3 separate regions of the Homo sapiens genome follow, and regions 1 and 2 are each reported to be linked to region 3. Evidence: microRNA targets listed by miRTarBase, many of them from high-throughput screens and not tested one by one. Region 3 holds a microRNA gene; each other region holds the end of a gene's coding sequence.

The links. Region 3 holds the annotated microRNA hsa-miR-6514-5p (UAUGGAGUGGACUUUCAGCUGGC, at 1,626-1,648, opposite strand). A microRNA usually pairs through its seed, bases 2 to 8, with sites in the 3' UTR of a target mRNA and lowers its output. Matches are read on the target gene's strand: a 7mer-m8 pairs with bases 2 to 8, a 7mer-A1 pairs with bases 2 to 7 and ends in A, and an 8mer does both.
Region 1: the mRNA of TECPR1 is a reported target of hsa-miR-6514-5p. Seed matches in the 3' UTR shown: 7mer-m8 at 1,234-1,240.
Region 2: the mRNA of RAB40B is a reported target of hsa-miR-6514-5p. Seed matches in the 3' UTR shown: 7mer-m8 at 934-940.

What each region holds. Positions count from the first base shown.
Region 1 is chr7:98,214,616-98,217,821 of GRCh38, reverse strand. It overlaps TECPR1 (tectonin beta-propeller repeat containing 1), which reads left to right. Exons shown (of 26, transcript NM_015395.3): 25 at 11-130; 26 at 319-3,198. The coding sequence ends at 432. It overlaps BHLHA15 (basic helix-loop-helix family member a15), which reads right to left. Exons shown (of 2, transcript NM_177455.4): 2 at 2,365-3,206. Among named protein-coding and RNA genes, the nearest start is that of BHLHA15, 4.8 kb to the right of the region's middle.
Region 2 is chr17:82,655,038-82,658,285 of GRCh38, forward strand. It overlaps RAB40B (RAB40B, member RAS oncogene family), which reads right to left. Exons shown (of 6, transcript NM_006822.3): 6 at 1-3,097. The coding sequence ends at 2,826. Among named protein-coding and RNA genes, the nearest start is that of WDR45B, 8.2 kb to the left of the region's middle.
Region 3 is chr11:62,791,124-62,794,371 of GRCh38, forward strand. It overlaps MIR6514 (microRNA 6514), which reads right to left and starts at 1,648; the gene lies at 1,579-1,648. TMEM223 (transmembrane protein 223) reads right to left here and starts at 883. Exons shown (of 2, transcript NM_001080501.3): 1 at 556-883. The coding sequence starts at 871. NXF1 (nuclear RNA export factor 1) reads right to left here. Exons shown (of 21, transcript NM_006362.5): 19 at 3,135-3,248; 20 at 1,518-1,578; 21 at 1,007-1,391. The coding sequence ends at 1,353. RefSeq lists an enhancer at 283-792 and a silencer at 863-1,012.

The sequences.
Region 1 (3,206 bases), not on the chromosome of region 3:
TGTGCTCCAGGTCTGGGTGATCGCCAACAAAGTGCAGGGCAGCCACAGCCTGAGCCGGGGGACAGTGTGTCATCGCACCGGCGTGCAGCCTCACGAGCCCAAGGGCCACGGCTGGGACTACGGCATCGGGGTGAGCGGGGCCCGCGGCCTTGGGCTGTGTTATCACCTTGTGCCTGCACTGGGTGCTGAAGACGGGACGACCACTGTGGGACTGTCCCCTGGGACCCGGTGTCTGGGTTGCAGGGAGGCCCCCAGGCAGATCCCCTCCAGGATCCTCGAGTCCCCGAGTCCCCTGGTGACACAGCTCTCTCCTTCCAGGGAGGCTGGGACCATATCTCTGTCCGGGCCAATGCCACCAGGGCCCCCCGGAGCTCGTCCCAGGAGCAGGAGCCGAGTGCCCCACCAGAGGCCCATGGCCCCGTCTGCTGCTGAGGCCCCCCCACACACCTACATGCAGGGACGGTGCCCAGTTTGGGGGATCAAGGCTGAGCCATTCTTGTGCTGGAGTGTGCACCGTGGGAGCAATGTGGCCCAGGTGGACTCAGGAGGGAACCTGGCCCCAAGGCTGCGGCCACTTCAGAGGCACTGGCTGAGACGGCCCTGAAATGTGAAGCTCCGCGGACACTCCCACACGTGTCCCCGTCTGCGAGGAGTCCCGGGGTGTGGGGCATGGGGTGGGGCTGCACCTCCCAGAGGCCCCTCCCACCCTTCCCTTCCCCTCTCCCTTCTGCCTTTCCAGGACTAGAACCGGGAACCTGGAGCCCTCCGGGAACGCCGGCCCTGGGGCAGCAGAGCCAGGATGGAGCCCTCCTGAGCTGGCATCTCAGACAGCACCCGGGCCCGCCACCCCTCACCAAGAGAGATGGCCATGGGGCTCAGGGCCTCTTTACCATGTGCAGTGACCATTTCTCAGAGCAGGACTTGCAAAGAGGCTTTAATTTCAAAAGTGAAGGAAGGAGGCCAGGCGCCGTGGCTCACGCCTGTAATCCCAGCACTTTGGGAGGCTGAGGTGGGCAGATCACCTAGGTCAAGAGTTTCAAACCAGACGGGCCAACATGGTGAAACCCCATCTCTGCTAAAAATACAAAAAAAAAAAAATTAGCTGGGCATGGTGGTGGGTGCCTGTAATCCCAGCTACTCGGGAGGCTGAGGCAGGAGAATCGTTTGAACCCGGGAGGCGGAGGCTGCAGTGAGCCGAGATCATGCCACTGCACTCCAGCCTGGGCGACAGAGACTCCATCTCAAAAAAAAAAAAAAAAAAAAGTGAAGGAAGGAGACAGCAGATTGGAAATAACACTGGAGTGGATGGGATGTCCTCTTCCCTGAGGGGGCCGGGGTACCAGACGGGAGGCTGGGAGAGGATGAGAGGCTGCCCCATGGCTGGAGGCAGTGTCCGTGTGTGCAGTCACCATCATCAACCCCCATTCGGCCCCTTCCCCAGATGCGCTGGTGACAGGGGCTTCTTGGATGTCAAATCATGTTGTAGGAGGGTGCAGACTGCGGGCTTCTGTGGGGAGCAGTACTACTGTGTCTGTCGGCAGTGGCCATGGGACCCTCAGCCCGTCCTGTACATGGAGCAGGGTGCACAGTCACCCTCCATCCTGTGGCGAGAGGCTGGCCCGGCCCGGCCAGGCGAGGCAGAAGGTGTCGGCCAAGTGGCCCCGACCCCATCCCGCAGTCTCTCAGCTGCTTTTTATTACCTCTGTGCCCCATTTGGGAGTTTGCTTCCTCCACCTGGACACTTTGCCCGGGAGGTCATCAGAGCCCAACCCCAGGCTCTGCTCGGTTGGAGAGGGGATGACTTCACCACCACCTGACCTTCCTAGGGTCCTGGTCTCACTGTCAGCTGGGGGTCCGTTGTGTGTATTTGTACAGTTTTGCTGTATGGGGTTTGTCACCCAAAAGCTGATGCTGAGAAAGGCCTCCCTGGGGCCCCTCCCGCGGGCATCTGAGAGACCTGGTGTTCCAGTGTTTCTGGAAATGGGTCCCAGTGCCGCCGGCTGTGAAGCTCTCAGATCAATCACGGGAAGGGCCTGGCGGTGGTGGCCACCTGGAACCACCCTGTCCTGTCTGTTTACATTTCACTATCAGGTTTTCTCTGGGCATTACGATTTGTTCCCCTACAACAGTGACCTGTGCATTCTGCTGTGGCCTGCTGTGTCTGCAGGTGGCTCTCAGCGAGGTACGGGGAGGGCGTCACCCTGCAGAACGGCAGAGTGACGCGTCCTCTCGCTGCTGAGCACCAGCTGTTTACCTGCCCTGCATCACTTCCTCGGATACTTTACTCAATAAGCATTTCCCCTGGAGTGTCCGTGCCCTGGTGTTTTTTATCGATACGTTGATTAAAACGCGTGGTTCCCCGTGTGCCTGAAGCAGACATTGCTGTGAAATCTTTTATTTTTGTTTTATGACACAGCATCAATTTCATGAATACTTTGAAAGGGCCATTAGAAAAAATAAGAGCCAATTTGGGTCATTTGAGAAACATTTTCAGCACAATTACAGTGGGGGCACGGGCCGTTCGGCTCCAGCTGGGTTTTCCCAGATGCAACAATCGCGGTTCTGGCTTCTCCACTGGTGGGGATGGGGATCGCGCCTTCGGAGCTCTCAGGGCGCCTGTCTGTCGGGGGCTGGGTGCGTCCACAGCCCCGGGGGATGGCGCGTGGCGTAGCCCAGGAACGGCATGTGGGTGGGTCTCTGACCTGCTTGTGCAGGGACTTGAGGGACCTCATCCCGATGGCCGAGGCAGGGGCTCCCCACGGGATAAAAGGATCCGGCCTGGCCTTGGGGTCCAAGAGGAGGGCCAAGGGAGTGGACCTGGCCCCTGTCCCCTCTCCTCCTCGAAACACTGGACACCCTGAAGCGAGACTATGGCTGCTGAGGATCCTGTGTGATGTGGCCGCGGGGCGTCCCCTCTGGCCTCAGGGGAAGAAGGACTGGGCGGCTCGGCCCAGGTCACCCTCTAGGAAGCAGAGGAGGTGCAGGTGCCAGTTCAGGGCAGAAAGAAAGAGCCACTGAGGCCATTGTCCTGAAGGCGGTGACCCCCAGGCACTCCTGCTGCCCCCCAGGAAGCCCTGGGCTGCGCTGGACACCGGGCCGAGTCTCCGTCTTCTGGACCGAGGCTCTTCTGGGCTTTCAGGCTCAGCTCGTCGGTCCATTCAGCAAGTTCAGGGGCAGACTGAGCCCTGCTCTGGCCATGGCTCAGC
Region 2 (3,248 bases), not on the chromosome of region 3:
TCCGGTCTGTATTAGGTTTCGTCTGTTTTTGTTCTGCCTTGGTTTGCTGTAGCACTTTCTGCCGTGAGCGTAACTCACTTCCTTGTAGGAGTTTCCTGAGGCTGCCGTAACAATCGCCACAAACCTGGTGACTTAAATAACAAATATTTATTTTCTCGTAGCTCTGGAAGCCGGAAGTCCAAAACCAATAACTTGGCAGGGCTGTGCTCCCTCTGGGAGATCTCGGGGAGCCTCCTTGCTACATGTTCCGCTTCTGGGGACTTCTGGTGGTGTTTCCCTGGAGGGCCAAGGCCTCCGGGCGGCCCGTGCATTCGGTGAACACCTCCAAAGAGCTCTGAGTCACAAAGCCTTGGGAAACTTTATTTTATTCTTTCTAGGACATTATCAGTAGTCCCGAGGAGACATCAATTACAAAACAAGAAAAAGGAAGGAAGAGAAAAATACAGGTTTGGCCTGGTTTAATGTTGCAATGGGAGGATCCATTTCCTTACCCTTCACCATCAGCGAGCTGGGAACGGAGGGAGAAGAGGCCCCTCAACGTGGGTTTCTTCAACGTGGACTCTCCTTTCTGTGCATCTCAGTGTCCTTGTGTTTGCAGCTGGGAGGTCGGCCCTGTCGTTCTCACCCCACCTGTGGCACAGCAGAGAGAAGGGTGCACAGGTCTTTGCAGCGTGCCTGCACGAGGCTGGCCACCCTCTCCAGACACTGTCCCCTCAGGGTTCACCTTCTGCCCACAGACCACACCCCTGCCTCCCCGTGGACTTTGTCCCCGTGGCTGCCGTGCCCAGGTGGCCAGACACCCCCAAGCCTGGGTCCACCCGCAGGGACCAGTGCTCCTCTCTCCTGTCTGGGCCTCGGTTCCACCATCTCTGAATACAGGCTTTGCCCCTGATTCTAGGGTCCCTTAAATTTCTTTTTTTTTTTTTTTTTTAGATGGAGTTTCACTTGTCGCCCAGGCTGGGGTGCAGTGGTACGATCTCGGCTCACTGCAACCCCTGCCTCCCAGGTTCAAGTGATTCTCCTGCTTCAGCCTCCTGAGTAGCTGGGATTACAGGTGTGCGCTGCCATGCCAAGCCAATTTTTGTAATTTTATTAGAGACGGGGTTTCATCACGTTGGCCAGACTGGTCTTGAACTCCTGACCTCTGATCCGGCTGCCTCGGCCTCCTGAAGTGCTGGGATTACAGGTGTGAGCCATCACACCCAGCTGGGTCCCTTAAGTTTCTAAGAATCTACAGATCATCAGCAGGAACTAGGAACATCTGGGTATTTTCTCGCTTCGTTTTTTTGGTTTAGTCCCTCATTTGCGACCCCCAGCCACAGAGAAACGTTCAACAGTGTGACCAGGGAAGAGAGCGGCCCTGGAGGTCTTTGCGGTCAGCCCTGCTCTGAGGCAGTCGGGGTCAGGGGCTACATCTTCATGCGGAATTCCTGACAGCCCCTCGGAGCTCCTCACCGAGGCTCAGGAGCACGGCTCTGATTTCTCAGACAGGCACATGCCTGGGTGCCAGCTTTTAACTCTCCGCTCTCTCCTCCTCTGCACTTCTGTTCCGGAAAAGGAATCCTTTCTCAACAGGCGACAACAGTTCAAGGATTCAGCCTTGTTGCCAGTGTCGTGTATTAGCTCCGATATGTGATGTCTACACCAGGCAGTGGCGCAGTGAAGTAAAGGGCTATAAGAAATACACAAAATCTGGCCGGGCGCAGTGGCTCACGCCTGTAATCCCAGCACTTTGGGAGGCCAAGGTGGGTGGATCACCTGAGGTTAGGAGTTCAACACCAGCCTGACCAACATGGTGAAACCCCATCTCTACTAAAAATACAAAAATTAGCCGGGCGTGGTGGTGCACCTCTGTAATCCCAGCTACTCGGGAGGCTGAGGCAGGAGAATCGCTTGAACCCGGGAGGCGGAGGTTGTGGTGAGCCCAGATCGTGCCATTGTACTCCACCCTGGGCAACAAGAGCGAAACTCTGTCTCAAAAATAAATAAATAAATAAATACAAAATTCGAAAGAACCGGTCGCCAACTCTACCAAGAGAGAAACAACTATACATTTTATTGTTGAGAAACATTTTCCTAAATAAGTGTTTTCACTTCATTCTTTACTGAAACAGCTCTTCCTTGACATGTCGAAACTGTGCTGGCTGTGTTCAACATAACTAGAGGTATCTTTGGCATTTTCTTCCCTTAGCTTCATAACTTGTAGAATATCTTGTACAAAAAACTGTAGATTTACAGAAAAATATGCATATAAATCACTTATTAATCCCAAAATGTAGTAAATAACTAGCAAAAACTTTATCAAATCCATTTCATACACAAACTGGACAGATCAGTTGCACATAACCTCTACATCTGCAGCGTTTTATAAATTGGCGCTTTGACATTGAAAAGGAGGTTTACAAAAAGACCCCTCTCGTAATATCAGTGACTCTAAATTATCCCGCTGCCATTGCTTCTCAAATTCCATTGAATTTATACTAATCACTCCAATATCACCGTTCTTACAAAAGCAGTTATTTTAAGGAAAAAGTTGCAGTGCAATCATGATAAAGTAACATTCAGAATTTCATGTTACCAAGAGTCGAGCAGAGTACTAATTTTCCCTTTACAAACACACATCGAAAACAAGAGCTTCATGCACATCCACGTAGAAATTCGAAGTCCGACGGGGTAGTGTGTTTCCATCACACGGAAGGCGTCGCACACATTCGCAAGCAGCATTCGCCGAGAGGAACCGGGATCTGAGATGCATCCACCAGCTGCCGGGGGTAACGCCGAGCTTCTCCTGGAGAGATTCCGCCGTGTTTCTTTCAGTGCCTTCCTTAAGAAATTTTGCAGCTGTTTCTGGTGCAGTTTTTGGGGGGGCTCTGGGGGGGGCGGACGAGCTTCACTTTGCGGAGGCTGCTCCTTTTGTGGGTGGAGCTGGTGGTGAGGGAGTAGGAACCGCCGTGCATCATCCTGGCATTCAGGCCGTTGGCCATCGAGAAGGACTTGAGGTGGCTTCTTAAGGCAATGGGGAGCGGGAGCTTGTCCACCAGGTGCACCGGCGTGCAGGACACGACCGCCCGGCAGCAGAGGTCTTGCAAGCTCAGCACTTGGGAGAGAAAAGATAAACCTTGCTTAGTGGATGTCCCCACCTGGGCTGGGAATGAGGGGTGGTGCCCACACCTGTTCTCCCGCCCTCCCAAGGCTCGGACGCCCGTGGCCCTGGCTTGTACATGCAGCAAGCCCTGCCGCGACGTCCC
Region 3 (3,248 bases):
CAACCTTAATAGATGTCCGTTTCCATTTTAATGGGAAGATGGAGAGCTTTAAGGACCTTGCTCAAGGTCGCAGAGTGAAGGGCAGCCCTCAGCCTAGGCTATGACAGGGCACGGCGCTCGGAGACATCACTGTTTCCCAATTTTTTTTTTTGAGAGGGGAGTCTCGCTCGGTCGCTTAGGCTGGAGTGCAGTGGCGTCATCTCGGCTCACTGCAACCTCCGCCTCCCAGGTTCAATTGATTCTCCTGCCTCAGCCTCCCGAGTAGCTGGGACTACAGGCGCTTGCTACCACGCCCAGCTAATTTTTTGTATTTTTAGTAGACACAGGGTTTGACGGTGTTAGCCAGGATGGTCTGGATGTCCTGACCTAGTGATCCGCCCGCCTCCGGCCTCCCAGCATTTGAGCCGCCGCGCCCGGCCAGTGTTTCACATTTCTGTGGGGTAAAGCCCGCCCGCCACTCTCGGATAGGGAGTCCCTGACTCTCCCTGCCTGTATAGGGAAGGTCGTGTCCCGCCACCCCACGTTGTCACAGTGGGAAGCCAGCCCACGTCTTACCGATGGCGCCGCAGCCGACGGCCAGACCGTAGCGCCAGAGCGCGGAGCGCAGGTCGAAGGGGCCACGATTTGGGACCTCCGCATCCAGAGGCTGCACCGGAACCGGGGGCCGGGACACGGCTGCCACAGCCATGGAAGCCCAGAAGACGCCCTGGCCCGCGCAGAACAGCCCGAGGATGGTGAAGAAGCGGCCCCGATCATGCTCAAAGAGCAGCACATCCCGTTGCAGCGTCGTGCCTTGCAGGGGCCGGCAGGTGAGCAGGGGCCGCAGCACGGCTAGCAGCCCCGTGGGCCATCGCCTCCAAGGCGCCGCCATGGCCAGCCGACTTCCGGGGTGGGGCTTCCTGCCGCAGAGCCGCCTTCCGCCCTCCCTGGGCGCCCCCGCTAGAGGGCCCGCCCCCCTCGCTCAGGGCTGGGAGGAGACAACCAATCCAGCACGCAGAACACGAAATACAACATCACTCTTTATATTAAAAAGTGCAGAACACGAAATACAACATCACTCTTTATATTAAAAAGTAAGGAGGTCCTGGGGTTAAGTACACAAAGCACCTAAGTCCTTCGGGTAGTTTAGTGTCAGTTCTACAAAGTAAGCTTTGGCTTCCTGGCACCAGTGAGGCTCAATCTTCTGAAGTCTTCCAGAAGGCAGGCGAGGAGAGGGATCAGGCAGCCCTCCCTCCCTCGGTCACAGTCACGGGGCGGCCTCGGGCCAGACAGGAGGAGATGACAGACGACAACCAGACGGTAATATCCAAGGACTATTTACAGGGGGGACTGCTTCTGAGGCATGACTACGATCACTTCATGAATGCCACTTCTGGGATCTCGCCCTTGGCCTGGAGAAAAATGAAGGTCAGTAGAGGTAGGCCTACCCTCGCCACTCAGCAACCCCACTCAGCTAACCTGACCTCCTGGAGGCCCAGAGATCCTAGTCTTTTTGCCACTGTATTTCCAGACCTTACCTTGAGATGAGTGAAGGCCTGGGCAGATCTGGTGTAGTCCCAGTTGTTGTCCTGAAGGCACCTGGAGTGGAAGAACAGGCAGCTCTGTAAGAACTCTGACTCGTAAATGCCAGCTGAAAGTCCACTCCATAAAAGCACCCAAGTTTGCCAACAAATATGTACATTCTTATACATCCTTGCACTATTTATACAAATGAGACATTAGTAAAAGTCCAGATGTTCTACCAATGGCTTCTCAAAGATAAGGAATATTAAATAGCTGTCAAGAAGCTCAAGATAGTTTTTACAGTGGTAGGGAAAGATGTTCATGGTGTAAGTAAAGAAACTAAGTTGCAGAACAGTATATGAAAAGGAACTTCCATTTTACCTTTAAAGTTTTTTATGTTAATTTATACACAGGCAAATTTTTTATAGACTATCAGGTTTGTGTTTTTCTGTTTGCTTTTTTTTTTTTTTTGAGACCGAGTCTTGCTCTGTCACCAGGCTGGAGTGCAGTGGCGTGATCTCGGCTCACTGCAACCTCCGCCTTCCAGGTTCAAGCAATTCTCCTGCCTCAGCCTCCCGAGTAGTTGGGACTACAGGCGTGGAACGCCAAGCCCCGCTAATTTTTGTATTTTTAGTAGAGACGAGATTTCACCATGTTGTCCAGGATGGTCTTGATCTCTTGACCTCGTGATCTGGCCGCCTCAGCCTCCCAAAGTGCTGGGATTACAGGTGTGAGCCACCTCTCCCAGCCAACTATTAGGTTTTTTTAAGCAGCCAAAAGTTTTGCCTTTTAAAATTTCAGGAGCCCAGGCACAGTAACTCACACCTATAACCGCAGCACTTTGGGAGGCCTAGGTGGGCAACATGGTGAAACCCCATCTCTGCAAAGAAATACAAAAAAATTAGCCAGGTGCTGTGGCCTATGCCTGTAGTCCCAGCTACTCAGGTGGCTGAGGTGGGAGAATCACCTGAGCCCTAGCAGTTGAGGCTGCAGTGAACTGTGATCACACCACTGTACTCCAGCCTGGGCATCAGAGTGAGACCCTGTCTCAAAACAAACAAGCAAATAAAAATTTGGCTGGGTGCAGTGCCTCATGCCTGTAATCCCAGCACTTTGGGAGGCCGAGGTAGGCAGATCACAAGGTCAGGAGTTCGAGACCAGCCTGGCCAACATGATGAAAGCCCGTCTCTACTAAAAAAAAAAAAAAAAAAAAAAAATACAAAAATTAGCCAGGCATGGTGGTGTGTGCCTGTAATCCCAGCTACTCGGGAGGCTGAGATTGGAGAATTGCTTGAACCCGGGAGGCAGAGGTTACAATGAGCCAAGATCGCACCACTGCACTCCAGCCTGGGCAACATAGCAAGACTCCACCTCCAAAAAAAAAAAATAATAAAATAAAATAAGGTGGCACATGCCTATAGGCCCAGCTACTCTGGAGGCTGAGGTGGGAGGACAGCTTGTGCCCAGGAATTAGAGGCTACAGTGAGTTATGATCACCACTATACTCCAGCCTGGATGACAGCGCAAGAACTTGTCTCCAAAAAAAAAACAAAAAAACTGTCAGGAGCCCTCATTATTTACTACTAGCCCTACTTCAGTGCATCCCCATCCTACACATGCCCCGCACTCACTTCTGGGACCACTCGAGGTTCATGCCAGACTGGGTAGAGAATGCTTGCAACATTTCCTGCTGCTCTGGAGAGAGGGTGGGCACCGGGCTGGAGGAAGGCGTGGGTGCAGGCATA